Linked DNA regions of Homo sapiens. The protein of the gene in region 2 purifies or fractionates together with the protein of the main gene of each other region. This does not show direct contact. Each region holds a gene or a part of one and is shown on either strand. Other genes may lie near its edges. The genes, in order: PPP2R1B, FOXS1, MIPEP and ACOX1.

Region 1 (7,025 bases), on a different chromosome or scaffold from region 2:
TCAAAAATAGTTGCTAAATTATTTTCTTTAAGCAAACCCAGATCTTAAGTAAAGTGAAAATCCCTGAACTTAATTTTAGCTAATTACTCCCCACTATAAGGTAAAATTTAAAGTACACTTTTAAAACAAGACTAAACACTAAAATCTTACTTGGTATCTAGAATTGGTCCAATCTTTTGTAGAGATTTGGCCACATTGAAGCGAACATTTGCTACTTGGTCTCCTGCCATTTTTAATACGATGGGCAGCATTTGCTTAGTAGTTATTTCCTGACCACAGGCCTCAGACAGTGCCTAGAAAAATAAGTAAGATGGCACATTTAAAATACTTTAAAAAATTCCAAAATCTAATGAAACAAATTAATATTTAATAAGAAAATAATTGACCAATAGGAAAATATTTCTAGTTTGAGCAGCTGAGTGGGGGACACAAGAATCATTCAAATGATCAGAGAATTAGACCAGAATTCACAAATAAGTTGAACTTTTAAAATACTGTAGTTTTGTTCTTTGTTTTTTTTTTTTTCAGGCGGAGTTTTGCCTTGTCGCCCAAGCTGGAGTGTAGTGGCGCGATCTCAGCTCACTGCAACCTCTGCACCCTCTGCCCCCTGCCCAAGGTTCAAGGGAGTCTCCTGCCTCAGCCTCCCAAGTAGCTGGGACTACAGGCATGCACCACCATGCCCGGCTAATTTTTGTATTTTTAGTAGAGACAAGGTCTTGCCATGTTGACCAGGCTAGTCTCAAACTCCTGACCTCAGGTGATCTGCCCGCCTCAGCCTCCCAAAGTGCTGGGATTACAGGCATGAGCCACTGTGCCCAGCCAATACTGTAGATTTTAACATGAATTTTAAAATTGACATTTTCTCTCATCTCCTGTCTATTCCAATTAATCAATACAAGACATATATTCCAAATAGAAGACAGTATACTGATAATTCAGAAATAGTCATGAATAATTTTGCTTTAATGATTAAGCTTAGCAATAACAGTTATGTTATACTTACATTAATGCAGAATAAAGTGGTCATTCTATGCAAGTAATTAGGATCATTTGCCATTACTAACACTTTGGGAACAATAGTATTTTGGGCCCACTCTGTACCAAACTTCTGAACTAGTTTCATGAGGTTGTTGGTGGCAGCTTCTCGGATGGCGTATACTGCAGAAGAGGTCAAAAACATGTTCTCATATCGCTTATTGTTTTTTAAGCATAACCTAGTTTACTTACATGAAAATCAAATGTGGACCAAAAGCAAAACCCCTCTGCAATCAGACTCCACATGTAATCATGCTGCAATGACAAGCATGCTCAGCTCCAACTCAGTTTCCAAGTGTGCATATCCACAGAAAAGGGATGCAAGGAGCTCACCATATGCATCATCAATTATTTAACAAATACAAGTGCCTACTATGTGCTACAAAAAGAACACAGAAGATACTTTCCCTCACAAGAAATATGCTCTTATCAGAGAAATGAAAGCTAACACACTCCATGAAGTCACATGGTGTAAGAGCAATTAGAATGAAGTGTGGCATTGTGTAGTAAAGGCTGTGAGGGTTGTAGCAGTGCAGAGAAGAGTGAACAGGGAAGGTCTAGGAAGGCTTCGGCACAGAAAGAAGCCTTGACTGGGCAGTGAAGATTTGGGAGGATCTGTGTAAGTGGAGAGAAGCGGGGAGGAATTCCTAGAAAGGGTAAAGACATGTATCCAGGACACAAACAGAAAAAACTGAAACCTGTGAGACTTCTAAGTTAGACAATTAGGGTGGACCCAGACTGCAGAGCATTATGAAAGACTTAGATTTGATTAGGAAAAACAGTGATGGGTTTTTAAAGCAAACTTGTGACCTGATGACCAATGTGGAATTTTAGCAAGATTATTCCAGCAACATCACGGAGAAGCGACGTTGACTGAGAAAGACAACAAGGAAATGGTGTAGAGGCCACTGTGGTCATCTATACAACAGCAAATACAAACATCAGACTGACTTGCTTCCTCTCCATGAAAATGCTTAGGTTGAAACAAGATGTCAAATGTCTTTGAATCAATGTGCCTGCCTTAACATCTAATAATTCCCTATATCCTTTGATCATTTATCAAAGACATAAAGCTAGATAATAAAGGTCTCAGCTACAATCCTCTCACAATTAGTTGCTATATACAGCACTGAACAAAAACAAGCCTGGTGTCACTTCACTTTACAGATCCAGTAAGACTCAAAATTTGGGCTCAGATTAACAAATCGAGGGTGGTAGGTACTAATTCCTTATTCTACTTCTCTCCCCAGGTGGGCCCAACCTTCCTGGGATGATAGGAAGGGCAGGAATAGCTATCCAAGCCACAGTCCCAGTCCTAGGCAATTTATACAAGCCTCCAACCAAGAAATAGGCAACTTCTTCTATTCATAGATCCTTCTGGGCAATGATGTTGAGAACAAGCAAGACAGCATAGACAAGTGACCCATACAACTGATTATCAACACTTAAACTGACAGTCTACAGGAGAAGCAACCTTTCGGTAAGACTCAGATGCACTAAGGAGCAAACTCAAGTCAACTGTTTTACTGTAATACAGATTCCTTCCCTTCATATCCATAGTCTTTGTCTTTGGCCCAAACCCTTCCCTGTCCTCCCCACTAAAGAGGAGCTAGCTAGAGTATTTGTGTCTTCTCCTCTAATTTTTTTTTTTTTTTTTTTTTTGAGACAGAGCCTCACTCTGTCTCTCAGGCTGGAGTGCAGTGGCGAGATCTCGGCTCACTGCAACCTCCGCCTCCTGGGTTCAAGCAACTCTCCTGCCTCAGCCTCCTGAGTAGCTGGGATTACAGGCGCCCGCCAACACATCCAGCTAATTTTTGTGTTTTTAGTAGAGACAGGGTTTCACCATGTTGGCCAGGCTGGTCTCGAACTCCTAACTTCAAGTCATCCACCCGCCTCAGCCTCCCAAAGTGCTGGGATTACAGGCATGAGCCACCATGCTCAGCAAATTACTATTTTTTTTAACACGCTTTAGATTTTTATCATAATGCCATTACCATAGGAAGGGATCTCTACTGCCAGAAAAACCAGAGACTGGGGAACACACATGCATAGCCTTGACCAAGACCTTAACTGCACTGAACTCTACTTGGCCAGATGCCTACTATGTTCTTGGTTCCTCTGACTGTTTTCAGAAGAATGCAAACCATTCCAGAGTTCTGCCTGTTTTCTTTTGTCTATTTCTGTCTCTTTCTCTCTCCCCATCTCCTCTCAAGGCCTGGCTGACCTGCAAGGTTTCTTTGAATGTCTATCTATGCTCAATAACTGATACCTTCTCCTTTCTCCTATAATAAATAAATAAATTTCCCTTCTACATTCCTCCCTCTGATCAAAACTGTCTACTCAACCACAGGAATATAGGTGAGTGATACTTTCTTCCTTATACTTCTCTGGAATTTTCACAATGTTCTTTTAGTAGTTACCTAACTAGGGGAAAAGTTTCAAAAACTCTAACTGATCCAGTGATCATTATATAACACTTATCTGAAATGCAAAAGCAAAAAAGCTCCTGTGATTAAGTACAAAACAATTTCAGAGCTGTTATTTCATTGGTTCATGGAACTCTTGCAGTCCCCACTTCAGCATGCTGCTGCAGTGAAATAAACAAGGGTTTCTCCTGCTCCCAAACTGAAAGAGAAAATCCGAAAAGAGGAAGGAGTAATCAAGTTGCATAGAGAAGACAATCTTACAGAGAAAGGGTGCCAGGAATTTAATTCTTTGTGGAATATTAGAACTTTAAAAATTCCTCAAAATAAAACACCATCTTAATCTAAAATGCCAACTTTTAAAGAAAGCATAGAATGACTTGAGGCCAACCCAAATGCCCATCAATGACAGACTGGATAAAGAAAATGTGGCACATATACACCACGGAATACTATGCGGCCATAAAAAAGGAATGAGTTCATGTCCTTTGCAGGGACATGGATGAAGCTAGAAGCCATCATTCTCAGCAAATTAACGCGGGAACAGAAAACCAAACAGTACATGTTCTCACTAATAAGTGGGAGTTGAACAATCAGAACACATGAATACAGGGAAGGGAACATCACACACTGAGGCCTATCAGGGGGTGAGGGGCGAGGGGAGGGAGAGCATTAGAACAAATACCTAATGCATGTGGGGCTTAAAACCTAGACGACAGGTTGATAGATGCGGCAAACCACCATGGCACATGTATATCTATGTAACATAACAAACTTGCATGTTCTATGCATGTATCCTAGAACTTAAAGTAAAATAAAATTTAAAAAAGCACAGAATGATTTGCTAGGATGCACCATTCCCAGTAACGTCAAATATTTATCAGATATAACATAAACATTTTTTTTAAAAGTGGTATTTCTTTCCTATGATTTGCCAAATTTTAATTTTATTTAAAAAGAAATAAATAGGCCACAATAAGATAACTTTAGAGAAGAAAAAGAGAAAGAAGTCTACAATCCAGTTTGAAAACACTGGAAATACCCACATATATAAGCCCTTATACATTTTCACATATTTTTTCACATCCTTCCTCTTCACACTCTTAACCATATGATCCTCCATATGATGCAAACATGCCTTTAACAAAACCACCCACACGTATAAGCAGACACAAATATCCTCATTCCTCCCAAATTTCCAGGCATAAGCACCCATAGATGAACAAAGAGATACACTAAATACATATATCAAGTATATAAAAGATACTGTGGAACTGACTCAGGTTATCTATTATATCCACCAAAACATGGAAACAAAGCTCAAGGACAATGTCACATGACCCCATAGGGGCACTCACACTCATCGAAACAGGTCTAAGACAACACTGAAGCTGTCAAGTCTGGACCTGGGATCTGGCAGAGACGGTACATCTGTCACCCACTGCTGCCTGGCACACAAGGGGATACACACATATACCTCTACCTGAAGCCTCACCAGGAAGTCACTTGCTCATTCCTGCTGTCCTATCTGACCTGCCCTGAGCTCACCCTCTCCTAGCACTGTAGCAGCAGCAGTGAGAGTACAAGCAGTAAGCCTTCCTTTCACCCAAACCAGAAATCCAGGCCCTCTCTCTCCCTATGGCAAAGCTAGTGTTTCCCACACCTAAGAATCCTCTACTGTCTCACTGTAGATCTCCTCTTCTATGTCACCTCAAAAAGCCAAGTAGCCATTTCTCCCACCCAGGCCTTTCATCTGATTCCAATCTCCATACAACCTAGTGTATAGCTGCTGAAGACACCAATTACAGGATGGTCAAAAAGAGGATCTTCAGATAAGGGAGGAGTAAGTAGATATATAAAAGAGATGGTCTGAAGATAATGTAATAGATTGAGTAAGAAAATAATGCAAATAAATTGTTTAATGGAGAAAATAAAATCGAAGATACAAAAAATTGGTAGAAACGTCAAATTTATATTCAGAAGATTAAACTTTAATTAGAGCCTTTCTTCATTCCTACAATATTAAGGCAAAATATCTGGTCAGACTGAGATTCCTTTCTAAAAGGAAATGTATGAAAATCATGGATATATGGGCTTTCAATAATCTGTTTTTATCTACTCACCATGGTCCACGAGCCAAGCCATACATAAAGAATTCAGCTTTTCATCAAAGAATTCCACACCCTACAGATACAGAAGATTCCATTAACATACATTGCCAAAATTCAGAAATAAAGATGGTCTATTTACATTACACCAAGGTTACCTGAAGGCTAAAAAAACTTGTTTCCAAATAAACAAATAAGAGATAGAAACACCACAGGAATTACAAACAAACCATAAATCTATTTATTGGACGGAAATCATAAACAAAAAAAAAGCATACGTGAGCTGGCATAGGCCCTGCTAGGTAAAAGAGAACAGGGTGGCCAGAAGTCAGCCACAACACTGCAAAAGAGCAGGAAGAATGCACTGTGTATGGTCTGCCAAGCAAATCTGGATTACCTGTAAAAATGAATTACCCAGGAAAACACCTGTCAGTAATATTACTAATTCTCAATCGTCTTCCCTTTTTGGTTACTATTATGACAAATCCTTAAGGATAAAGCAACTGACCTCAAGACATAGAGATATCCCCAGTTAAAGAGAGTATTTTCGAGACAACAGGAGAAAGCCCTGGAGGGAGAATAAAGCAGGCCCAGGACTACAGGGCATATGGCCCAGGCATGGCTTGCTCTCCCAGCCCTGTTCCTCCCGACTGTCAACAGGTGGCCACTTCAGTGCAGGCTGGGGATGGGCTCCGGGAGCAGATTTACACAGTCCTCTAACCCCGGGGCTTCCACACCACATGGAGAATGCTGTGACACACTTTCCTAGTGCCTCCCTTCTGGGGTCTACACATTTACAGTCTTGCTTCTTTGAACTCTAAGAAGTTCCTGACTGGTGATTCTATATTTTAAAAAAAGAGAGGTAATATAATGTGTCAGTGCTTTGAAAATAGTGATTGAATAAGACAAAATAGCTTTTTTTTTTTGAGATGGAGTCTCACTCTATTGCCCAGGCTGGAGTACAGTGGCACAATCTCAGCTCACTGCAACCTCCACCTCCCGGGTTCAAGTGATTCTCCTGCCTCAGCCTCTCAAGTAGCTGGGATTACAGATATGCAGCACATGCCCAGCTAATTTTGTATTTTTAGTAGAGACAGGGTTTCACCATGTTGGCCAGGCTGGTCTCTTAACTCCTGACTCAGATGATCCGTCCGCCTCAGCCTCCCAAAGTGCTGGGATTACAGGCATGAGCCACCGCACCTGGCCCAAAATTGCTTTGTACTAAAAGATCATAATGAACAAATTTTGGCATACACTTAGATTACGTCAGCCAAGATTTCTTTTTCATTTCAGGTTGAGAATTTTCCTTCAGTTTTAATTAACTTTTATTTTCCAGTTTGTTGTTGTTGTTGTTGTTGTTGTCGAGACGGAATCTCTCTCTGTCGCCCAGGCTGGAGTACAGTGGTGCAATGTCAGCTCACTACAACCTCCGCCTCCTGGGTTCAAGCAATTCTCCTGC
Region 2 (6,472 bases):
AACCCTAACCACTGAGCAGGATTGCTGGTTTCTCATGAGACGCTGCTAGGTTGTTGTTATTGTCGCTGTTATGGTTATTTCTACCTGCATCAAAATCTTTGCTGGGAGGAAGCTCCTAGAATCCCAGAAGATTTGCTGGGAGGGTCATGCCCTCACTGTACAGATGGCCCCAGCTTTTAACCGCAGAGCTCGACTATCAGTTCGTTTATACTGGAAGCTATTGTTTACTACTATTATTACTAGAATTCTTATCATCACTGATAGGGAGAGAGCACCCAAAATTTCCGAGGTAGAGGCTGGGACGACCTCTGGGTCCGGCAGAGTTTGAAGGGGAGGGTAAGAAGGCGAGGGGAGCTAGCGCCGCCCACGTCCAGCCCGTGCACCCTCTCTCGCCCCACAGCCTGCTGGCTGCACGTGTGGCTCTTCTCTCCGCAGCGCTGGTGCGCGAAGCCACCGGGCGCACAGCCCAGCGCTGTCGTCTGAGTCCGCGGGCGGCCGCCGAGCGCCTGCTGGGGCCGCCACCTCACGTTGCAGCAGGTTCGCTTCCCCGACCCATTGCCCAGCGCCCACGTGTTGCAGGGCCTGCCGCCTCACCTGGAGCGCGGTGTGCAGCTCTGGGTGGCTCCGGAGGGCGTGTTCACCAAGCGCCTGTGCCAGGGCCTGTACTGGCGCAGCCCAACAAGGTGGAGCGCAGGCGCACCTGCCACCTGCTGAACACACGCGGCTTCCTCCAGGCGGTAGGACGGCTGGAGGAGTGGAACAGAGTGGCGTGGGAACGGGGGCATAAGGACGCGGTGGGCAAAGGAACATGAACAGAGGAGAGTGGGCACATTAAATGCAGGCCCAGGGGGATGGGCCTAAGGGTGCTGGGCATGAAGTGGACATTGACACAAAGAATATGGCACAAAAGCACCAGGGATGGGAAAGAATACAGGCACCAGGAGGGCTGGGGGCACATATACGGATACAGGCGTATATGGGGTGCTGGCATGGAGAAGGCTTGAGGCGTTGGGTGTGCAGCATAAGAATAGGGCTTCGGTACATGTGTTGGCTTAGGGCATAAGGTGGATGTGAGGTGCACCAAGCACGAGATAGGTATAGGTGAGTGGCAGTGGGCATGGGTTGGGCATAAAGGCATGGGGTGGGCATAGGGGCCAAGGAAGAGACATAAGACCTGGAAGTGGGCACAGATGTGGGACATGGGACAGGCATAGGAACGTGGAAGTGGGCCTAGGGTACAGGCACACAATGGGATGTGGGCTTACAGGACTTGGGCATGGGAAATGAGCACAAGATGGGCACCAGTGGGTTGCCTAGTTCTTGCCCAGTCCCTATAGTCTCAGTGTCGTATAATTGTGTGCCCACCTGCAGGATGGTCACCGGACCCAAAGTACCAGATCTGTCTGTGCTTCGGTGAGGAGGACCCGGGCCCCACACAGCACCCCAAGGAGCAGCTCATCATGGCGGACGTGAGTCACTCCTTCCACTCCAGCCAAGAAGCACGCCCTCCAGTCCCCTCCAGACAGCCCTTCCCACACTCCCTCCAGTCCCAGCTCTGCCTCTGACACTTCTAGCACCCTCGGGTCTGTAGGACCCTACCTGGAAAATGGGGGTAGGGATGGGGCTGTAACTAGGGCTGTGACTTCCCATGGGAACATCCGAGGCGGGAAATGGAGAGGGTCTGCTCATCGCCCCACCCGCCCCCGCAGGTGCAGGTGCAGCTTCGGCCTGGGAGCTCGTCCTGCACTCTAAGTGCCTCAACCGAGCGCCCAGATGGGTCCTCAACCCCTGGCAACCCCGATGGCATCACTCACCTTCAATGCAGCTGCCTCCATCCTAAGCGAGCCGCTTCCTCTTCTTGTACCCGCTGAAGGCAGCCCCCAACAGGGGGGCTCCCTACTCCCACCCAACCCTGCCCACACTAAGCCCATAGACTTGGGGCCTCCCCCGGCACATCACCCAGGTCTGCCGGACGGCAGAGGTGGATCGCGGCCTTCCACTCCTCTGTCACGGGGCCCCGGAACTCGAGAGTAGGCCACACCGCCCCCCAGCTGGGCATGGGGCTTCGGCAGGAAACTGAACTTGATCTTGAGGCCCCAGAAAGGCAGCAACTGGAGCAGAAGCAAGACTTCATCTCTTGCTGACAGCCCAATTTGTCAATAGCGCTTTCCTCAGAGCCAGCCTTAACCTGCTGTTGAGTCCATTAAAACGTTTGCTTAAAGTTTTTACCAATAATTAGATCATCAGGGTTGTTTAGTGTGGGATCAAGCCATAACAAAACTGCCTAGCCTCTCAGGGGCCTAGAATTTACAGAACCTTCCTCCTCCCTGCAGCTAGTCTCTCTTCTTTATTCTGGGGGCTGGGAAGGATCCCAAAACAGGGAACTTGGCCGAACCCTGGGCTTTGGATGCTAACCACTGAAGTACCAGCACCTGTAGGATGCTGTCTTTGAAGAAACTGAGGCGGACCTCCAAATGCAGCCCTAAGGCAGAGGTCAACGTGGAAGACCAGCCCTTCTCCAAGCCCCACTGGTCTTTGCAAGCTGTACGTTGTAGGCAATCTGAGAACTGGAAAGGGGGACTACAACCAGAAAGTTGGTTACCCTGCCATGGGAATAAAGTAGCTGTTTTCCACCCCACATATCAGGCCTTTTATTCTTTTCTGAGTTCTGATTTTATTTATAGGAATCCTCTTACAGATGCCAATATTGTAAGTCTCTTTTAATGATACATTAATAAGCCACCTTCATGGGGGGAAAACTGTGATTCGATAAAGGACAGAAATCAATCAATTGCTGTTTGTTTAGTCATTTAGCAGACATTTCTTGAACACCTACTCTGTTCCAGGCCTCTGTTCCAGTGTCCAGTGTGTGACTCTGGGGGTACAGCAAAACAGCATGCTCTTTACTCTCTTGGAGTTCACATTCTGTTTTCTAGTGGGGACCCAGCGACTCTCCGCTACCCCTGCCCCTCACTGAAGAGGCAGTATTTAGGAATTACAGAATCCTAGGCTCATATCCAGCTTTGTCACTCACTAGATGTGGGACATCAGGGAATTTACTTACCTTCTCTGAGCCTCAGAGCCCTCATCTATTCAAAAGAAGCAATGAAGCCCTCCAGAGCAGGGTTGGTTGAAGAAGTAAGTGTAGGGTTGGGGAGGTGAGCTGGCCTGGTACAGAGTGGGTGAGCAGTGACTTGGGAGTGGGAGAGCAGAGAGGATGCCGTCCCCTCCTCCAGAAGGCCTGACTGTTCTGGGCCTGACTCTCTGGACCTCCCGACCCCAGGCTGCAGCTGGGGTAGCCTCAGTTCAGAGTGACAATCCGCAGCCATGTTCATATCCCTACTCCATACTAGGCTCTTGATGAGGGTGCTGCATTCTGTGTAAGGGGAACCTGTTGCCTCCCCACCATGGCCTGGACAGCTGAGGAGTCACCAGCTCCATGTTAGAGATGGGGAAACTGAGGCTCAGCCAAGGTCTTGAGGTGCCTCTTGGGAGGGAGAATGTCTCTCCCCAGATAGCTGTCCTTCCCACACCAGTCACTAGGGGGCGACAGGGATGCAGCAGAACTGAATTTCATGGGCTCTCCTTACCATCCTAGGTGCCCCTCCCTGCAGACACCCCAGAGCTAGGAGGATGGGGTAGGAGTGGTGTGGCCCCAAGGCCTCTGCACCGCAGGAGAAGGCAGTAGACCACAGGCCTGGGAGAAGAGGGAAAAGCAGGAGTAGAGGTAGGGATTAGAGAAGCCCCTGGGGCTTCTCTCACTCTAGGGGGACTGGGCTCAGGCCCTGCCTCTCTCTCCTCTCTCTCTCTCTCTCTCTCTCTCTCTCTCTCTATTCATTCCTTTCACTCCTTGTGTTTGCACCTGTGTCTCTCAGTATCTCCTTTCTCTCTGGCTTTGTGGATTTCCTTGTTTCTGCCTGCTCAGTGATTCTCACTTTCTCCGTATACTACGTGTGTGTGTGTGTGTGTGTGTGTGTGTGTCTGTGTCTGTGTCTCTGTGTTTCTGTGTGTGTATGTCTCTGTGTGTCTGTGTATGTGCTTGTGTGTGTGTCTGTGTGTATGCCTATGTGTCTGTGTGTGTCTGTCTCTGTGTATATGTGTGTGTGTGCTTATGTCTGTGTGTGTGTGTCTGTGTGTGTGTCTGTGTCTGTGTGTCTCTGTGTGTCTGTACGTGTATGTCTGTGTGTCTCTGTGTGTCTGTACGTGTATGTCTGTGTGTCTCTCTGTGAGTGTCTGAGAGGCTCTGGGTGTCTCTGTCCGTTGTGTCTGCCTCTGTCTTATCTTTGTCTCTCCCTCTTTCTCCCTCTTGTGATGTCTCTACCTCTCTCTGTCTCTATCTCTTTTTTCCCTGTCTCTGTTTCATATGTTTCTGCCTCTGTCTCATTTTGTTTTTGTCTCTGTCCCGCTCAGTTTCACATCCTGTCCCTCCCCAGCCACCACCACCCAGCACACGTGGGCTGAGGGTCTCAGTCCCTTCCTTCCCAACTCCTCATCCCTGGCAGCTGCTCGGCTTCCCACTACTGGCCTCTCCTGCCCGCCTCTTTTGGGCCTTGTGGGAGTGGGGCGAGGGAGGAGGGGAGGATGGCTCAGCAGACCCACCCCTTTTTGCCTTTCCAGGCTGGGAGGCTGGGCCAGTGGACCTTTTAACCAGCCTGGGCAGGCTATTCCGGACGCCAGCCCTGGAAGCTGAGCCTGACCCAGCAGGTCCCAGCAGCCTGGCAGCCCGGCCAGCATGCAGCAGCAGCCTCTGCCCGGGCCTGGCGCCCCCACAACTGAGCCAACCAAGCCTCCCTACAGCTACATCGCCCTTATTGCTATGGCCATCCAGAGCTCACCGGGGCAGCGGGCCACCCTCAGTGGCATCTACCGCTACATCATGGGCCGATTCGCCTTCTACCGCCACAACCGGCCCGGCTGGCAGAACAGCATCCGCCACAACCTGTCACTCAACGAGTGCTTTGTCAAGGTGCCCCGCGATGACCGCAAGCCAGGCAAGGGCAGCTACTGGACGCTGGACCCTGACTGCCACGACATGTTTGAGCACGGCAGCTTCCTACGCCGCCGCCGCCGCTTCACCCGGCAGACAGGTGCTGAGGGCACCCGGGGCCCCGCCAAGGCACGCCGTGGACCCCTCAGGGCGACCAGCCAGGACCCAGGAGTCCCCAACGCCACGACCGGCAGGCAGTGCTCATTCCCACCAGAGCTGCCAGATCCCAAGGGCCTAAGCTTTGGGGGTCTGGTGGGGGCCATGCCAGCCAGTATGTGCCCAGCAACCACTGATGGCAGGCCTCGGCCACCCATGGAGCCCAAAGAGATTTCCACGCCCAAGCCTGCATGCCCAGGGGAGCTCCCCGTGGCCACCTCATCTTCCTCATGCCCAGCGTTTGGCTTTCCTGCCGGCTTCTCAGAGGCTGAGAGTTTTAATAAGGCCCCTACGCCCGTCTTGTCCCCGGAATCAGGCATCGGGAGCAGCTACCAGTGTCGGCTGCAGGCACTGAATTTTTGCATGGGGGCTGACCCAGGCCTTGAGCACCTCTTGGCCTCAGCAGCCCCCTCCCCTGCACCACCCACCCCTCCAGGCTCACTCCGGGCCCCACTGCCCCTGCCAACTGACCACAAGGAACCCTGGGTTGCAGGTGGCTTCCCTGTCCAGGGAGGCTCCGGCTACCCATTGGGGCTGACCCCCTGCCTATACCGGACGCCAGGAATGTTCTTCTTTGAGTAAAGGCAGCCTCACCTCGGGCAGTCCCTGCAGGTCCCTCACCCTCCGGGCTGAGCCTGGCTCTAGGACCTGAAGAACTCTCGAAGGACCCAGCCCTGGTGAGCCAAGGACAACCACACAGAAAGCCAGGATTGAAGCGGTGCTCAGCCAGGCCCCTGGGGCCTCCGGACAAACTTGGGGGTGAGGGGAAGCAGGGCCTCTTGGGATTTACTCTGTGGCTCTCAGGGCCAATAAAGCCATGTGATGATGAGGGTCAGCTTGCCTGATGGCTGGGGGCTGAGGGCCAGGGTGCCTGCTTGTATGTGGGGGTGGCTGTGGCTGTGGGGTTGTGCAGCGGGGGCAGAGACCCTTGGTGGGAATATCTCACATGAGGTTTTCTCCTGCTGGGGACTTTCTCAGGGAGTTTCCTAGAAAGGGAGAGGAAGGGGAGGTAGGGAATGGGGAGCAGGGAGAGGAGGATACAGGCAAGGGAGAGACTGGGCAGGGGCAAGACTGGGCTGGCCTGAGGGACTGATTCTCCAGTCTCAGATGCTGGGACTTAGCCCCCGTAGGTGCAGTCATCATAACCCTGACAATTTGTGACACTGATCCTGTCCCGGGCTTGTATGTATCATCTCACCTGTGTGATTTGGAAAGTTGGCCCCGTTTACAGTGGTGGAAACAGGCTCGCCAGCTCCAACTCCAGAGGGCAAATGGGTGGCAGAGGGTAAATCAAAACCACATCTGTGTGGCTCTACCCTCCAGCCTCTG
Region 3 (7,025 bases), on a different chromosome or scaffold from region 2:
GAATCTAAGAAGATTCTTGATTTTCAGCTTGTTCAGCTTCCTGCTTGTTAGGATGGAGTGGTGACTTTCAACCTCCTCATGTGCAGGAGTGGAAACCTCAAGCCTGGACCACTTCCTTTTATAGTTTATTTTCTCCCCTCTTTCCATGCACTCCTTTCTCTCAGTTCTTCAGTACCTCTGAACTGTTCTGTGTCTTCCTTCCCACCCCTCCCTCTGGTAGTTCAGGGGTCTGCCCTTTACCTTCTCTGCCCGCATCGCCCTTCCCTAATGGCCCTGTCTCCCTCTATGGCTCTAATATCTGTACAGTGAAGTCTCCTTGTTCTCCTTAGCTTTGGGTCCTGAGTGTCTGGTATCTCATGGGCACTTCACAGTCGGTTCCTCCAAAATGGAGTTTATTTTCTGTGAGCCCTCCATCCTCCTCCCATCATTGCACCTCACCCTCCTCTCTTCTCCCACAAACACACCCAGATTCCCCTCTTCCTTTTTTGTGTTCATTGTGCCGGCTGATTCAGTGACTCTACCATCCACTTATTTGTCCAAGCCAGAAACCTGAGTGTTATTCTAGATTGTTCTGTCTTTCTCATCACCCTCCAAATCCAATCACTCACACAGTCCTGAGACGTTTGCATCTCAAAGGAAAAACACATTCATCCCTGACCCCACTGCCCTCTGTCAGAGTTCACCCTCTGAAGCCTGGAAGTCTGTCCTCCTGTCAGCCCTCCCTGCCTCCTGCATTCCACCCTCCATGCTGTCCACTGTGCAGCATTCCAGAAAACATCAGATGCTCCCCTATGGCCTACAGAAGCTGTCTCCCAAATGGCATCTGTAAGCAATTCATTGAGAGTGTAGTCATAAAATATTAGAAATTCTATGTATATTTATTTTTCTTTATCTCAACTTATAAAAATGTCTGCTTTTCTTTTTGCAATGTGATAAAACAATACCACATGCATATACTTTATGAGTGTACTAATAGAAGGTTGAATACTCAAAAGTTATTTTAGTGTGCATTGGTGAGGAAGCTTAGAGGCCATGGCCTATGGTGCATGGTCCCAGTTCCTCAGCTTAGTGGACCAGGCCCTCTGTTTTCTGGCCCCTGCCTGCCTTTTCCAGACTCCGCTCCCATTCTTTCTACATTTATCCCTGCATTGGTAACTGCTTCATCTTTAACCACATCCTTTCTAGAAGTTACCAGGCTATTTTATGCCATCATACTTTAGTTATACTGTCGCTTCTGCCTAGAATTCCTATTATGATTCCCATTTTCCATTCCTCATCCCAGCCCTGCCTTGCAAAGTCTGATTCCTTTTTTTTTTTTTTTTTTTTTTGAGATGGAGAGTCTTGCTCTGTCGCCCAGGCTGGAGTGCAGTGGCACAATCGTGGCTCACTCAACCTCCGCCTCCTGGGTTCAAGCAATTCTCTGCCTCAGCCTCCCGAGTAGCTGGGATTACAGGCACCCGCCACCACACCCGGCTAATTTTTGTACTTTTAGTAGAGACGGGGTTTCACCATGTTGGCCAAACTGGTCTTGAACTCCTGACCTCATGATCCACCCACCTCAGCCTCCCAAAGTGCTGGGATTATAGGCGTGAGCCACAGCACCCGGCCGATTCTTTCTTGATTCCTATCCGAGAAGCTTTCCCTGGTGCTACTCTGCACTCCACAAGTAAAGTCATCATGCTCTCCTTTGCCCTCCCATTTTGCAGTGCTCATTCGTTCATGCTTCAGCACTGTCTGTTGAGCGCCAGCCGTGTGCCCACTGCACCAGGCCCAGGACACAGTGTAGTTGGTTCACTTCTCTGCCTCTTTCAGTGCCAGCTGCTTAGACACAAAGGCTCTTCATTCTTCTCTTCCAGCACCCCGCAGGTTTGCTGACAGCATGCTTGAGTGAACGAACCAGGGAGCGAGGGCACTGGATCATGAACGTCTCTTTCAACACTAGGATTCTGTTTAAAGAAAAATCAGTCAGAAATTAAGGTGTAAATTTGTGGATGTCCATAGCCAAAGTCTCATTTGTTGTGCAATTTATGTTCACTTACTAAACTCATTCATTTATTAGTAACTATGTTTTTATATTTTTATATATAAATTTGTTGTGGGGACTCATTTTATGGAACGAAGTGTTGTGCAGTTCTAGAATCACAAATAAAGCCAATTGAAAAAAAAATGTGTATTTTGGTAATCCTAAAAAGTAGACATATAATGAGAACCTACAATATTCTAGAGCCATTATTTTTGGCTATGGCTATATATTTTGGCTTGACTTAATGATTCAAATGTAAACATTCAAATCACGTATTTTGGATTTGCTTTGGTTTATATTGGAATATATAGAACAGAAAAAGTTATTTTTGGGTGAAGAATAATTCACCTTACTAGTTACGTTGTCTTTAATTTAAGATATCTAACTATAAAACAGATAAGATCTGATTATTTATATTGCAGGCATTTTTTTCATAAATGAATATTTTACTGGATGAGAACTTTAAATTCACTTAATGTGCCTCAGGATTTTTATTCATTTAATATTTATGTATATAGGTCACAAGTTTCTAGAATATAATTCATAAGGTAAGAGTTACCATTATAACTGAAACTGATCATATTTTGCATGTAAGTATGTATAAGGAATGTATACAGTGAGCAGTTGAGACTGCTTAATTGGGTTAGTGAAAGAGTAAATAACAGGGAAGGGACAAAGGTTAGGGAATGATATATCTACCTTAATTACTGACTTATAACTAACACTAGTAATAATCAGACTGTCATTCTGAAGAAAACTGTCTGAAAACCCCTCAAATGATATAAATACACTTTTATGTTTTGAATCCTTCTTTAGCTCCAGTGATCTTAAGTATTAAATGAAAAGTTAATTGAATTTACCTTCAGAAATTGAAATAAACAAAGATGCTGTTGAACCTCTCTTCCTTCTCTTAGGTATAATATTGAGCCCAGCCTATATTGCCCGTTTTTCTCTCTTGGAGCATGCATGGAAGGCCTGAATATTTTGCTTAACAGACTGTTGGGGATTTCATTATATGCAGAGCAGCCTGCAAAAGGAGAGGTGTGGAGCGAAGATGTCCGAAAACTGGTGAGCTCCTCCTGCTCAGCCTGCAGTTGCAGGCATTTACCTTTCGGTTGGGCAGTTGAGTCAACAGCAGTTTCAGGTTTACATCAACTTTGCCCTGACTGAGTGTGTCCCCTGCCTTATTTCTGCTTCACAAAAAAAATCCAAATTGCACTTCTGATTTAAGACACTGTATAAAGGATCCAAACATAAAACAGCAGAGTTTTCTAAAAAAGTTTTTTGGAACTTGATAGAAGGTTGAATATATATGCACCTTCATATATCCACAAATTCTATTTATAGGAAAATTGTCCTTTACTTTGTATATACCTTCATAGCTGTGTGTCCGTTTTGGTTAATTCCCAAATCCATTGGATAAGTGACCTTTTTTCTCTCCAACCCCCATCCCATGTTGTAGGGGCTTATATTTGCATCAGATATTAATTTACGTCCGTGTTCTGATTTATTTAACTTCTTTGATAATAACTTCAAACCTAGCAATCATCTTTCTCCTGTGAAGGCCCACTTTATATGAGGCATGAATATTTTAAATTTTTCCTCATAGGATTTGAGGCTTTGTTGACCTGTGTGTGTCACTAAGGCTTTGTATTGTTTTGTTGTTTGATTTTTGCTAGCATGCTTACCACACTGCTTTCTTCACTATATTTTAAGAAATGTAAACAGTCTCATTGTCTCTCGGCCACGTCTTGTGAGTGGAGAGTAGGTGTGGTGGTGGGATTGAAAGGAGAGTCAGGGTGGGAGGACGTTCATCACTGCATTGATTTACTTCACTATCTGTATTACAAACTTCCAAAAAAGATAGAGATTGATAAAATGCTGAGATATAATAAAAAGAAAAATTTATAAGAGGAGACTGAGAGGACAAAATGCGGGTGATGAAGGGTTTCCCCAGAACTGCAGAATGTGCACTCCACCGGGGTCCAGCACTGTTGTCAGTTGCATTCACTTCTGTATCCTCAGTGTCTTGAAGAGTTCCTGGCACCAAGTAGGTGCTTAACAGATGTTTGATGAACAATAAATATATACTTGCAGGTAGTTTTAAAGCACAAAATCGGGGTTCTCTTTGATGGAATCATTAAATTCTGAAAGAACAAAGAAGGCAAGATGGAGAGTAGTGATTGAGTCTCTCCTATAAGCTATGTCTCTTGGAGAGGGGATAGATAGTAATATTGCTGATTTTTAACTCAAGCTGGGAGCTGCATTGTGGTGTTTTCAAATTCAAGGGTTATAATTTGCTTGGGCGTATATCACGACATTCCAGGATTTGAAGGAAAAATAATTTGCTCCTAAAATTGTCCAGCCAGCACTTCTTCCCAGCTCTTGTGGGTGGTTAGTAAAGGTATTGTAGAGGATAGGCAGTCAGGACAAAAGGCCCTCATGAGGAGGATTTCCTGTCCTGGACACAGAATTCCAAAACCAAAATCATTCAAGAGATGGAGCAGAAGAGGATGCGGGGAAAAGAGAATCTATCTCGAGATAATGTGGGGTGTAGAATGTAATTAAAATGTCTATATGTGTGGCTATGGATGTTTAATATACAGATTCTTGTGTTAGGGATTTTAGAGAATCAGATGGCCTCATTTACCACCAAATTTAAATTTTTTTTTCTAGGCTGTTGTTCATGAATCTGAAGGATTGTTGGGGTACATTTACTGTGATTTTTTTCAGCGAGCAGACAAACCACATCAGGTGATCCTTTCTTTATAAACTGGTCTCTCTAGAACCGATCGGCATTTCATTTGTATTGATGTGAACTTTGTATCATTTTTTAAATTCCATGACATTTAAAAGTTACTAATGATGGTTACCAAATATATACATTTGAAATTAAGATAGAATTTTAAAATTAAAAAGTTTATGGAAATAATTACATCAGTCTATATTTGTCACTTTTATCTGGGTCATGGTATTAATTATAGTAACAATGACAACTGACATTTTATGAATCCTTATTTGTGCCAAACAGTGCACTGAGCCCGTTATACACATCAGCCTTTTAATGTTCGCCTCACCCTTTTGACTAGTTACTCACATTATGAGGAAACTGAAGCCATAGAGGTTAAGCTACTTGGCCAGAAGTGCTAGGACTTGAAGGCATACATCCTGAGCAGATCCCCAACTTTTAACTCTTTTCCATACTCGACAATGAACCTATTCTAAAACTGCGGAAGATACTCCATGTGGAAACCTTACCAACCACCAAGTAGCTCCTTATGTGGAAGACTTGAGGCAGCTCATCTCCTTTTCTTTAGCATTGGCCGACTTTGACAGCCAGTCAGCTTTAGCAGTTTCATGTAGCTTGATGGGAAATGTCAAGAGTTTAGGTTATAAGTTATAACAGAAATAATGTACCTTATGTTTGAATAGTGATTCACAATTTCCAAAGCACAGATTTTAACAGATGTGAGCTTATGAATTCTGGACAGCCACTGTGGGATTTGACAAGGAAGCATTTTAGAGATGAGGCTTGCAGAAGCAAATTATTTTCCGAGATGATTTGTCTAGTAGGTGTGAAAGGTAGGAACAGGGTGCAGGTCACCAGACTCTGAGGCCAGTGTTCTTCCTCTTTGCTTAAATGGGTGGGTGGTGGAGACTCAACTTTAGTGATTAGGAGCCCTGGCTCCTAATAGTCAGCCTGGGTTCAGATCCAAGGTGTGGCAGTTCTAGCTAGGTGTCCTTGGACATGTTATTTAATAATCCTAAGACTAGTTTTAGTTTTATCATCTGAAAAGTGAGATACCTGCTACATAGGGTTGTTGTGGAGAATAAGTGATACAGTGTATGTGAGTCTCAGTGTAGTGCCTGTTTCAGAGTAAGTTATTCTGGCTCCGGATCCCTTGCTTTACACTAGTTTAGATCCCATCTCGTTCAAGTGATAAAAGTCAAGAGAGGCTGGGCGCGGTGGCTCATGCCTGTAATCCCAGAACTTTAGGAGGCTGAGGCTGGCAGATCACTTCAGTCCAGGAGTTCAAGACCAGCCCTGGCAACATAGTAAGACTCCATCTGTACAAAAAAAAATCTAAAAATTTAGCTGGGTGTGGTGGAGCACACCTGTAGTCCCAGCCAATCAGTAGGCCAAAGCAGGAGGATGGCTTGAGCCCAGGAGGTCCAGGCTGCAGTGAACTGCGATCACAACACTGCACTCCAGCCTGGGCAACAGAGCAAGACCCTATCTTAAAAAAAGAAAAAAAAATAGCCAAGAGACATGGAAAGTACCTACTAGTTCATTATCTGACACATAGTAGGGACTCAGAATAAATGTTAGTGTCCCTTCGTAAGTTCTTTGCTGACTTTGTTTCCAGCTTCTGGCACAGCATCATTTCAATGCATGTTTTGGGACCAAAGTAATGAGTTAATCCATAGAAACTGAATGTGTTCTTGATGTTTTAAAAAATTAAAATTTTAGCAGAATAAAAAATGTCAAGAAAAGGTGTATATATGTAAATAGATAGAATAAGAATATAATTAAGTTAAAGTTTGCACTCACACATTTTTGGTGAAATTTTATATTCATTAAGACTGTTTTACTCTTCACATTACCAAATACTTTCTTTTCCTTTTATGTTTTCTGATTCTTAAAGGATTGCCATTTCACTATCCGTGGAGGCAGACTAAAGGAAGATGGAGACTATCAACTCCCAGTTGTAGTTCTTATGCTGAATCTTCCCCGTTCCTCAAGGAGTTCTCCAACTTTGCTAACTCCTAGCATGATGGAAAATCTTTTCCATGAAATGGGACATGCCATGCATTCAATGCTAGGACGTACTCGTTACCAACACGTCACTGGTGAGCCATGAGGAGGGCTTTTATTTACTACAGTCCTTTACAAACATACATTTTCTTTGAATTGGGAAAGGGGCTTTTTATTTGGAAAATGTGATCATTTTACCGTGTCCTGTGGTCTTTATCTCAGATTGCCTCATCCTGCCCTCCCCAT
Region 4 (7,698 bases), on a different chromosome or scaffold from region 2:
ATCTCCTTGTCATATCCTAAGGACATTGGAAGTGTGTCAAAGGGTGTGTTAAAGTTTGTACTTTAATACTTCACATGAAAAATGATACACAAAACAACTTCCCGGTGTCCATGAATCTTTAACCCGCATAAAAGACTTTGTTCTATTTCATTGTGACCTCACTCGAGTCTGGTTCACATTATCAACAGGTCACAGGTTATGAAATCATCTCTATCAGCTTTGAAATGCACTGCACCACCCATTCAAACACACACACACACACTCAACCCACTTTTTTCCTGACGTTTCAAGAAGGAATAAAATCTTACTAATTTTTTCAAATTTACAAACACAACACAGGTATCAGTAACATAATCTTCTAGGAGGAGTTACTCTATCTCAATATCCCCACAGCCATGAGTTACAAACTTCAAAAACAAAACAGACCATTTGGAAGTATGCTGATTTGAACTACCAAAAATAAATAAACAAAATTTTTTCGTTTAAAACTGAGTGGAGCTCTGAGGAAAGTCCAAAGTGCCAGAGTAAACCATTTCATCTTCACAAAAATAACCCAAGTCAAGCTGAAAATCGATACCAAAGGCACTAGAGGCAGTGACCATTATTACCATAAAGGCAGAACGTGCAACATGTTCTATTTAGCTTGGTTCTAGTCTATACACCACTCATACGATTTAGTCTTTACCGATGAAAATACTGGAGTTCCTTTAAAATGGAGAAACCTAAAAGAGAAAATGCCCAGGAATAAATGAGAAAAAAATGCTATAGGCCAAAATAATCTTGTACTAGGATCATGTAATAGTGTTTGTTTAGGTTAAGGCAAAAAAGTCTTTTTTTTTTTTTTTTTTTTTTTTGAGACAGAGTCTCTCTTTGTTGCCCAGTCTGGAGTGCAGTGGCGTGATCTCGGCTCAGTGCAGCCTTTGCCTCCCAGGTTCAAGGGATTCTCCTGCCTCAGCCTCCTGAATAGCTGGGACCCCAGAAGCGCACCACCAGGCCCGGCTAATTTTTGTATTTTTAGTAGAGAGAGTTTCACCATTTTGGCCAGGCTGGTCTCGAGCTCCTGGCCTCAAGTGATCCACCTGCCTTGGCTTCCCAAAGTGCTGAGATTACAGGCATGAGCCACTGTGCCCGGCCCGAAGTCCTTATTTTTATTTATTTTTACCGTTCCTTGTGGAGCAGGGTGGATCACGAGGTGAGGAGTTTGAGACCAGCCTGGCAACATGGCGAAACCCCATCTCTACTAAAAATACAAAAATTAGCCGGGTGTGGTGGCGGGCGCCTGTAATCCCAGCTACTCAGGAGGCTGAAGCAGGAGAATCGCTTGAATCCGGGAGGTGGAGGCTGGAGTGAGCCGAGATCGTGCCACTGCACTGCAGCCTGGGCGACAGAGCGAGACTCCGTCTCAAAAAACAAAAACAAAAACAAAAAACACAACAAAACACATGGTCTGAAAAAAGGATATACTCTCTTCCACACTAGAACCAAGGCAGGTTTTTATGACGTCTCTCTCATATGCACAAGACAACCATTCAAGCACTGTCATGGATTCAGAACTACTGGGTTCTTAGACTTTCTATTCATTCAGAGGCGTCACAGATCATTCTTCATCCAGGTCCACACTACCATATAATATAATCTGCTATTGCTCCAAAATATTTAAATGGTCGTGCAACTAAAAAAAAAAATGCTCCCAGATTCAGAATTTTAGCAGTCCTCCTTACAAAGAGCAAAATGATTCTGCATTTAAATCAGTCAAATTTGAGTTGCTTGGGCAGAACAATGCTTTTACAACATCCTTGAAACTGTACTCTTGAGAACAAAAACTCCTGCATTTCCATTTATTATCAGCATTCTACAAACACGTCATCCCACGAAAAGGCTTGGATACAAAAGTGATCACATTATTTTTCACACATATAACTTTATTTATTTATTTATTTATTTATTTTTTGAGATGGAGTCTCGCACTCTTGCCCAGGCTGGAGTGCAGTGGCGCGATCTCGGCTCACTGCAAGCTCCGCCTCCCTAGTTCACGCTATTCTCCTGCCTCAGCCTCCCGAGTAGCTGGAACTACAGGCGCCCGCCACCACGCCCGGCTAATTTTTGTATTTTCAGTAGAGATGGGGTTTCACCGTGTTAGCCAGAATGGTCTCGATCTCCTGACTTGGTGATCCGCCCGCCTCGGCCTCCCAAAGTGCTGGGATTACAGGCGTGAGCCACCGCGCCCGGCCACACATATAACTTTATAAAGTTGCATGAAAATATGCCAGTTTGCATCTTCAAACACCAAGCACGGTGATGAAAGGCCACCATAGACCGCAGCTGTAAAGTTTAGGCTTAACAACACTTGCTCTGTTCTAAGGCATACCTACTTTTTAAACCACATAATTTCATCAGGGTCAGCGATGCCAAACTCCCTCATCTTCTTCACCATGATGGCACTTTTCCTGACAGCCACCTCATAACGCTGGCTGCGAGTGAGGAAGTTCAAGTCCTCATGCTGGAAGTCTGGGTCGTTCAGGATCATGTTCTCTGAAAGGGGGTTAAAGGGCATTAAAAGGCAGACAGACACTCGGGCCTCCGTTCCACCCTCCCTGAATCACAATAGGCTTCAGAGTCGCGGACACACCTGGGGAATGGCGATATCCCCCCACCAGGGACACAGGCTGTTCCTCGAAGTGGGGGTCCCGGCTCCCCTAACGCTGGGCCAGAGGGCCTAGGCCCCACAGCGCCCCTGACTCCGCATCGAGGGAGTCTCCAGCTTTTCTCGGGAAAGGAGGGAGGTCTCGCCCGCCGCCCTCACCGATCTCTCGGCGGCGCCGGGTTTTCTCGGGGCTGCCGTCCAGGATGTGTGTAAGCAGCTCCGGGTTGAAGCTGGCGGAATCCCGCTCCCTGCGCAGGTCCGGGTTCATGGCGACGACCAGCTGGCAGCGAAGTAAGCACCGACCGAGGTGGCAGTGACAATCTAAATCCGCAGCTCCAGCGCCGGCCGGACCCTAGGAGGCAGCCTCAGGACGGCGCAAGTCCCCGCCTCCGCTCGCCCGGCCCGCCCCGGCCCGCCCCTTCTTTCTCCGTGGCCCTTTGGCGCGTGAGTGACAGCGGCCCAGACAGAGGGGGCGATGTCCGCGTCGTGGCTGGGGCCGGTCGCGGGGCAGACTAATCCCCTGCTCCTGGCCAGGGGAGGCTCCCGAGCGGATCCTCGGGAAAGGGGCTCCGAAGGTCAAGAAACTGCCCTGCTGGGCGTCCGGGGAGTGGGAAAATAAAGCACTTTTTGTATCCCGCCCCTCCCCCGTCACGTGACCACGCGAGGCGGAAAGAAGAAATCCGAGGACCGGCGACGCCTAGAACAGGTTGGCTGGGGCCTTGGGAAGGGGGCGGGACAACGAGGCTGAGGAGGGATTGCGCCTGCACTTGCCCCCCTCTTACCCCGCGGCCTCTGTCACGCTTCCGGGTCCGTGCCCCTAGGCCTCTCCGAAATGAGAGTGGTCGGGAGACTCTGGAGTCTGGGGCGGGAGATGGGGCTTTGCGGAATTGCTAGGGAGGGTCACTTGGGCTTTTGCCAAATCCACCCGGATTGGAGAAGAATGGGACGGGAACCAGTCTCTTTGGGGAGAGGCTCCAGTTACCTTTTGTTAAGATAATGGCGTCTTTACTGGCAGAGGCGTGGGTTCCGGGGCCCTGGGTGTGGGATTGTGAGCGCTGTTCAAGGGGTGGACGGGGACTTAGAATGAGACCAAGCGGGCGGTGCTGCTCTAAGCCTTCTGTCTGGGAAACCAGACATTTTCCCCCGCAACCTGGCAGTTACTAGAGGTCTTGGAATCCAGACTTCTTTGCTTTCGCCATCACCGTCATCAAAGTGGGAAATGCACACTTACTGTTAAAACCTAGTGTAGGGCCGGGCGCGGTGGCTCACGCCTGGAATCCCAGCACTTTGGGAGGACGAGGCGGGCGTATCACTTGAGCCCAGGAGTTCAAGACCAGCCTGGGCAACATGGCAAAACCCCATCCCTACAAAAAATACCAAAAAATTAGCTGGGTGTAGTGGCATGCGCCTGTAGTCCCAGCTACTCTGAAGGCTGAGATGGGATGGTGGCTTGAGCCCCGGAGGTGGAGGTTGCGGTGAGCCAAGATTGTGACATTGCACTCCATCCTGGGCAACATAGTGAGACCCTGTCTCTACAGAAAAAAAACAAAAAACAAAAACAGTTCTGCCCAGTGGGATTGTAGACAAGGGAGATTCAGGGATTTGTTGAATCATCTCTAGTCATTTTTTTTTTTTTTCTTGAGACGGAGTCTCGCTCTGTCGCCCAGGCTGCAGTGTGGTGGTATGATCTCAGCTCATTGCAACCTCCACCCCCTGGGTTCAAGCGATTCTCCTATCTCAGCCTCCCGAGTAGCTGGGATTATAGGGGCTCGCCACCACACCCAGCTAATTGTATTTTTAGTAGAGACAGGATTTTGCCATGTTGGCCAGGCTGGTCTCGAATTCCTGACCTGTTGATCCACCTGCCTCGGCCTCCCAAAGCGCCGGGATTACAGGCGTGAGCCGCTGCGCCTAGCCTGTCTGTAGTCTGTGTAATACTATGACTTTGGTTTTCTCAGAAGTAAAACTACGAGAGATGCATAACATTCATAATTTGAATAATAGAACTATAATACACACTCTTAACCCCTAGGACCTCAGGATCCTCATTTGTCTTATTAAGCTGCTGATCTCAGGCCCCTTCAACAGCAGAGAGGGTGTCTAGTTTATTCTCTGTACCTGGCACAGTGCCTGCCCCGCTAAAGGTGCTCAGGAAATCTTTGTGGAGTGAACAAATGGCTGCTTGACAGCTGACCTTCTAGTTCTAATATTCTAGGAAACCAATTGCTCTTAATGTAACAATGATAAGGGGTGTACTTAGCATTGAATAGAAAAGACTTAGATGAAGAGCTAAATTTGCTGAGTTTTTATTTTGAAATAATTTCAAATTTACACGAGAATTACAAGAATAGAACAAAGAACTTTTCTTCTGTGACTTTAACGCTTTTTTTTTTTCTTTTGAGATGATGTCTTCCTCTGTCACCCAGGCTGGAGTGCAGTTGCATGATTTCAGCTCACTGCAACCTCCGCCTCCTGGGTTCAAATGATTCTCATGCCTCAGCCTCCAGAGTAGCTGGGACTACAGGAATGTACTACCACACTTGGCTAATTTTTGTGTCTTTATTAGAGGCAGGGTTTCACTATGTTGACCAGGCTGGTCTCCAACTCCTGGCCTCATGTGATCCGCTCGCCTCAGCCTTCCAAAGTGCTGAGATTACAGGCGTGAGCCACTGCGCCTGGCTGGCTGACATTAACACTTTTGAAGTGTATAAGCCCATTGTTTTGTAGTGTTGGGTCTCAGAAAACAATACCCCAAAATGAAGGCCTCAGAAGCAACCCACAAAGCAAGTTGTTTTTTTTTTTTTTTTTACCTTCTGTCCTCCTCTCCCTCAGGTGCATTCTCCCCCGAGCCTAGCCAGAGAAGTTAGAATCCTCTTCCCCAAGGCAGGTCATAGAAAACAGAGTCATTTACCCCCAAAGCCAGCCATAAAACCCTAAATATAAGCTGGGTGCGGTGGCTCACGCCTATAATCCTGGCACTTTGGGAGGCCAAGGCAGGTGGATAGCGAGGTCAGGAGATCGAGACCATCCTGGCTAACACGGTGAAACCCCGTCTCTACTAAAAATACAAAAAAAGCCGAGCGAGGTGCCATGTGCCTGTAGTCCCGGCTACTCGGGAGTCTGAGGCAGGAGAATCGCTTGAACCGGGGAGGCAGAGGTTGCAGTGAGCCGAGATTGCACCACTGCATTCCAGCCTGGGCGACAGAGTGAGACTCTGTCTCAAAAAACAAACAAAAAAAACCCTAAATATATTACTCTTAACTTTCCCTCCTTCTTTTGGTGTAAAAACTGGCCAAAAAGAAATTATCTGACCTAGCTTGTTTGACTGTAGGCCATAAGACTCCATTCCAGAGAGGGTCCTCCCCCACACCCAGAAGGAAGGAATGCCTGTTCCAAGAGGCCAAGAAGAATCTAGACAGACAGGCCTTGCTGGGCCTCCCCACTCAGTCTATCAGCATTAGATCATACCTTTTATGTTCAATCATTTGCATAAAAATGTACAATTTCCCCTGTATCTTTGGGTCTTCCTTCTGAAGGCTCCCATATGTACATGTTACATAAATTTGTACACATTTTTGACTATTACTCTGCCTTTTGTAAGTTGATTTTTTGCAGCGAAACTTCAGAGGGCCCCTTGGCACCTACAGTAGAATGTCCCTTAATTCAGATTTGTCTGATATTTCTTCATGATTAGATTCAGATGATGCATTTTTGGCAGGAATACCACACAAGTGATTAATAGGAGAAAAGGCATACACATGTATTTGATCATAGTTTTGCTTTGTTTTGTTTTGTTTGAGACAAGGCCTTGCTCTGTCACCCAGACTAGAATGCAGTGGCGCAACCATAGTTCACTGCAGCCTCAAACTCTTAGGCTCAAGCATTGATCATAGTTTTATTTATTTATTTATTTATTATTTTTTCAGGCAGAGTCTCACTCTGTCGCCCAGGCTGGAGTGCAGTGGCATGATCTCGGCTCACTGCAGCCTCCGCCTCCCGGGTTCAAGCAATTCTGCTGCCTTAGCCTTCCCTGTAGCTGGGATTACAGGCACCCGCCATCATGCCTGGCTAATTTTTGTATTTTTAGTAGAGACGGGGTGTCACCACATTGGCCAGGCTAGTCTCGAACTCCTGACCTCAAGTGATCTGCCCGCCTTGGCTCAAAAAAAAAAAAAAGAAAGAAAAAAGGAAGAGGCCCGGTGAGGTGTCTCACGCCTGTAGTCCCAACACTCTGGGAGGCCGAGGTGGGTGGATCACCTGAGGTCAGAAGTTCATGACCAGCCTGGCCAACATGGTGAAACCCCGTCTCTACTAAAAATACAAAAATTAGCCGGGCATGGTGGCACACGCCTGTATTCCCAGCTACTCAGGAGGCTGAGGCAGGAAAATCGCTTGAACCCGGGAGGCAGTGGTTACAGTGAGCCGAGATCCCGCCACTGCACTCCAGCCTGGCAGACAGAGCGAGACTCCATCTCAAAAAAGAAAGAAAGAAAGAAAGAAAAATGTATAATCATTATACCAGCAAATTCCTCCCTCGGTGAGAATTGCATAGCAACCCCAGCATCCTCCCCACCTCTTTTTCCCCAGATCCACCAGAAAAACAGGAACATCTAGTGGGGACACTCCTTTAGTCCCCTCATGTTAGTGAGCACACACTCGTGTACACTAGCCCTTCATAATTGTTATCTCCCCCTGTTTTAGACAACCAGTGTTTTCATAGCCTATGCCACCTCTATAACCACCTGATGGGTTCCCACAGCACAAACGAAATCATTTCATGGAGAGCATGGCATTACAGTCAAGAAAGACTAATTGACACAAGGCTGGCCACACCACGTGGGAGTTGGTATTATTAGTCAATCTTCTGGAAGGCTCAGAGATTAGACATTATTTAAATGTAGTTTCGGGGAAGGGGTGGTGGCAGCTAGGCAATGGGTGCTTGCTGCTGATTGGTTGGGGGTGCAACCTTAGGGGTGTGGCAAATGGTCCTCCTGCAGGCTGAGTCACCTCTGAGGGGGGCCGCAGGAGTGGTGGGTGGGGTCCATGTGGAGTTG

What was found.
Region 1: the proteins of FOXS1 (region 2) and PPP2R1B purify together in Homo sapiens (affinity purification with mass spectrometry; 3 studies listed by BioGRID and IntAct, with this or other methods). This does not show direct contact.
Region 3: the proteins of FOXS1 (region 2) and MIPEP purify together in Homo sapiens (affinity purification with mass spectrometry; 3 studies listed by BioGRID and IntAct, with this or other methods). This does not show direct contact.
Region 4: the proteins of FOXS1 (region 2) and ACOX1 purify together in Homo sapiens (affinity purification with mass spectrometry; 3 studies listed by BioGRID and IntAct, with this or other methods). This does not show direct contact.

What each region holds. Positions count from the first base shown.
Region 1 is NC_000011.10:111,742,373-111,749,397, forward strand, and holds part of PPP2R1B (serine/threonine-protein phosphatase 2A 65 kDa regulatory subunit A beta isoform), read right to left. Parts: intron 5,643-7,025; coding exon 5,582-5,642; intron 1,159-5,581; coding exon 1,004-1,158; intron 294-1,003; coding exon 151-293; intron 1-150. UniProt on the Homo sapiens protein: The PR65 subunit of protein phosphatase 2A serves as a scaffolding molecule to coordinate the assembly of the catalytic subunit and a variable regulatory B subunit.
Region 2 is NC_000020.11:31,843,803-31,850,274, reverse strand, and holds FOXS1 (forkhead box protein S1), read left to right. Parts: upstream 1-4,670; 5' UTR 4,671-4,732; coding exon 4,733-5,725; 3' UTR 5,726-5,972; downstream 5,973-6,472. Other genes in the region: DUSP15 (dual specificity protein phosphatase 15), read left to right, coding at 401-537, 1,372-1,469, 1,710-1,871. UniProt on the Homo sapiens protein: Transcriptional repressor that suppresses transcription from the FASLG, FOXO3 and FOXO4 promoters. May have a role in the organization of the testicular vasculature.
Region 3 is NC_000013.11:23,837,401-23,844,425, reverse strand, and holds part of MIPEP (mitochondrial intermediate peptidase), read left to right. Parts: intron 1-2,937; coding exon 2,938-3,091; intron 3,092-4,699; coding exon 4,700-4,777; intron 4,778-6,669; coding exon 6,670-6,874; intron 6,875-7,025. UniProt on the Homo sapiens protein: Cleaves proteins, imported into the mitochondrion, to their mature size.
Region 4 is NC_000017.11:75,976,162-75,983,859, forward strand, and holds the start of ACOX1 (peroxisomal acyl-coenzyme A oxidase 1), read right to left. Parts: upstream 3,006-7,698; 5' UTR 2,913-3,005; coding exon 2,804-2,912; exon of another isoform or gene 2,630-2,803; intron 2,533-2,629; coding exon 2,373-2,532; intron 1-2,372. UniProt on the Homo sapiens protein: Involved in the initial and rate-limiting step of peroxisomal beta-oxidation of straight-chain saturated and unsaturated very-long-chain fatty acids.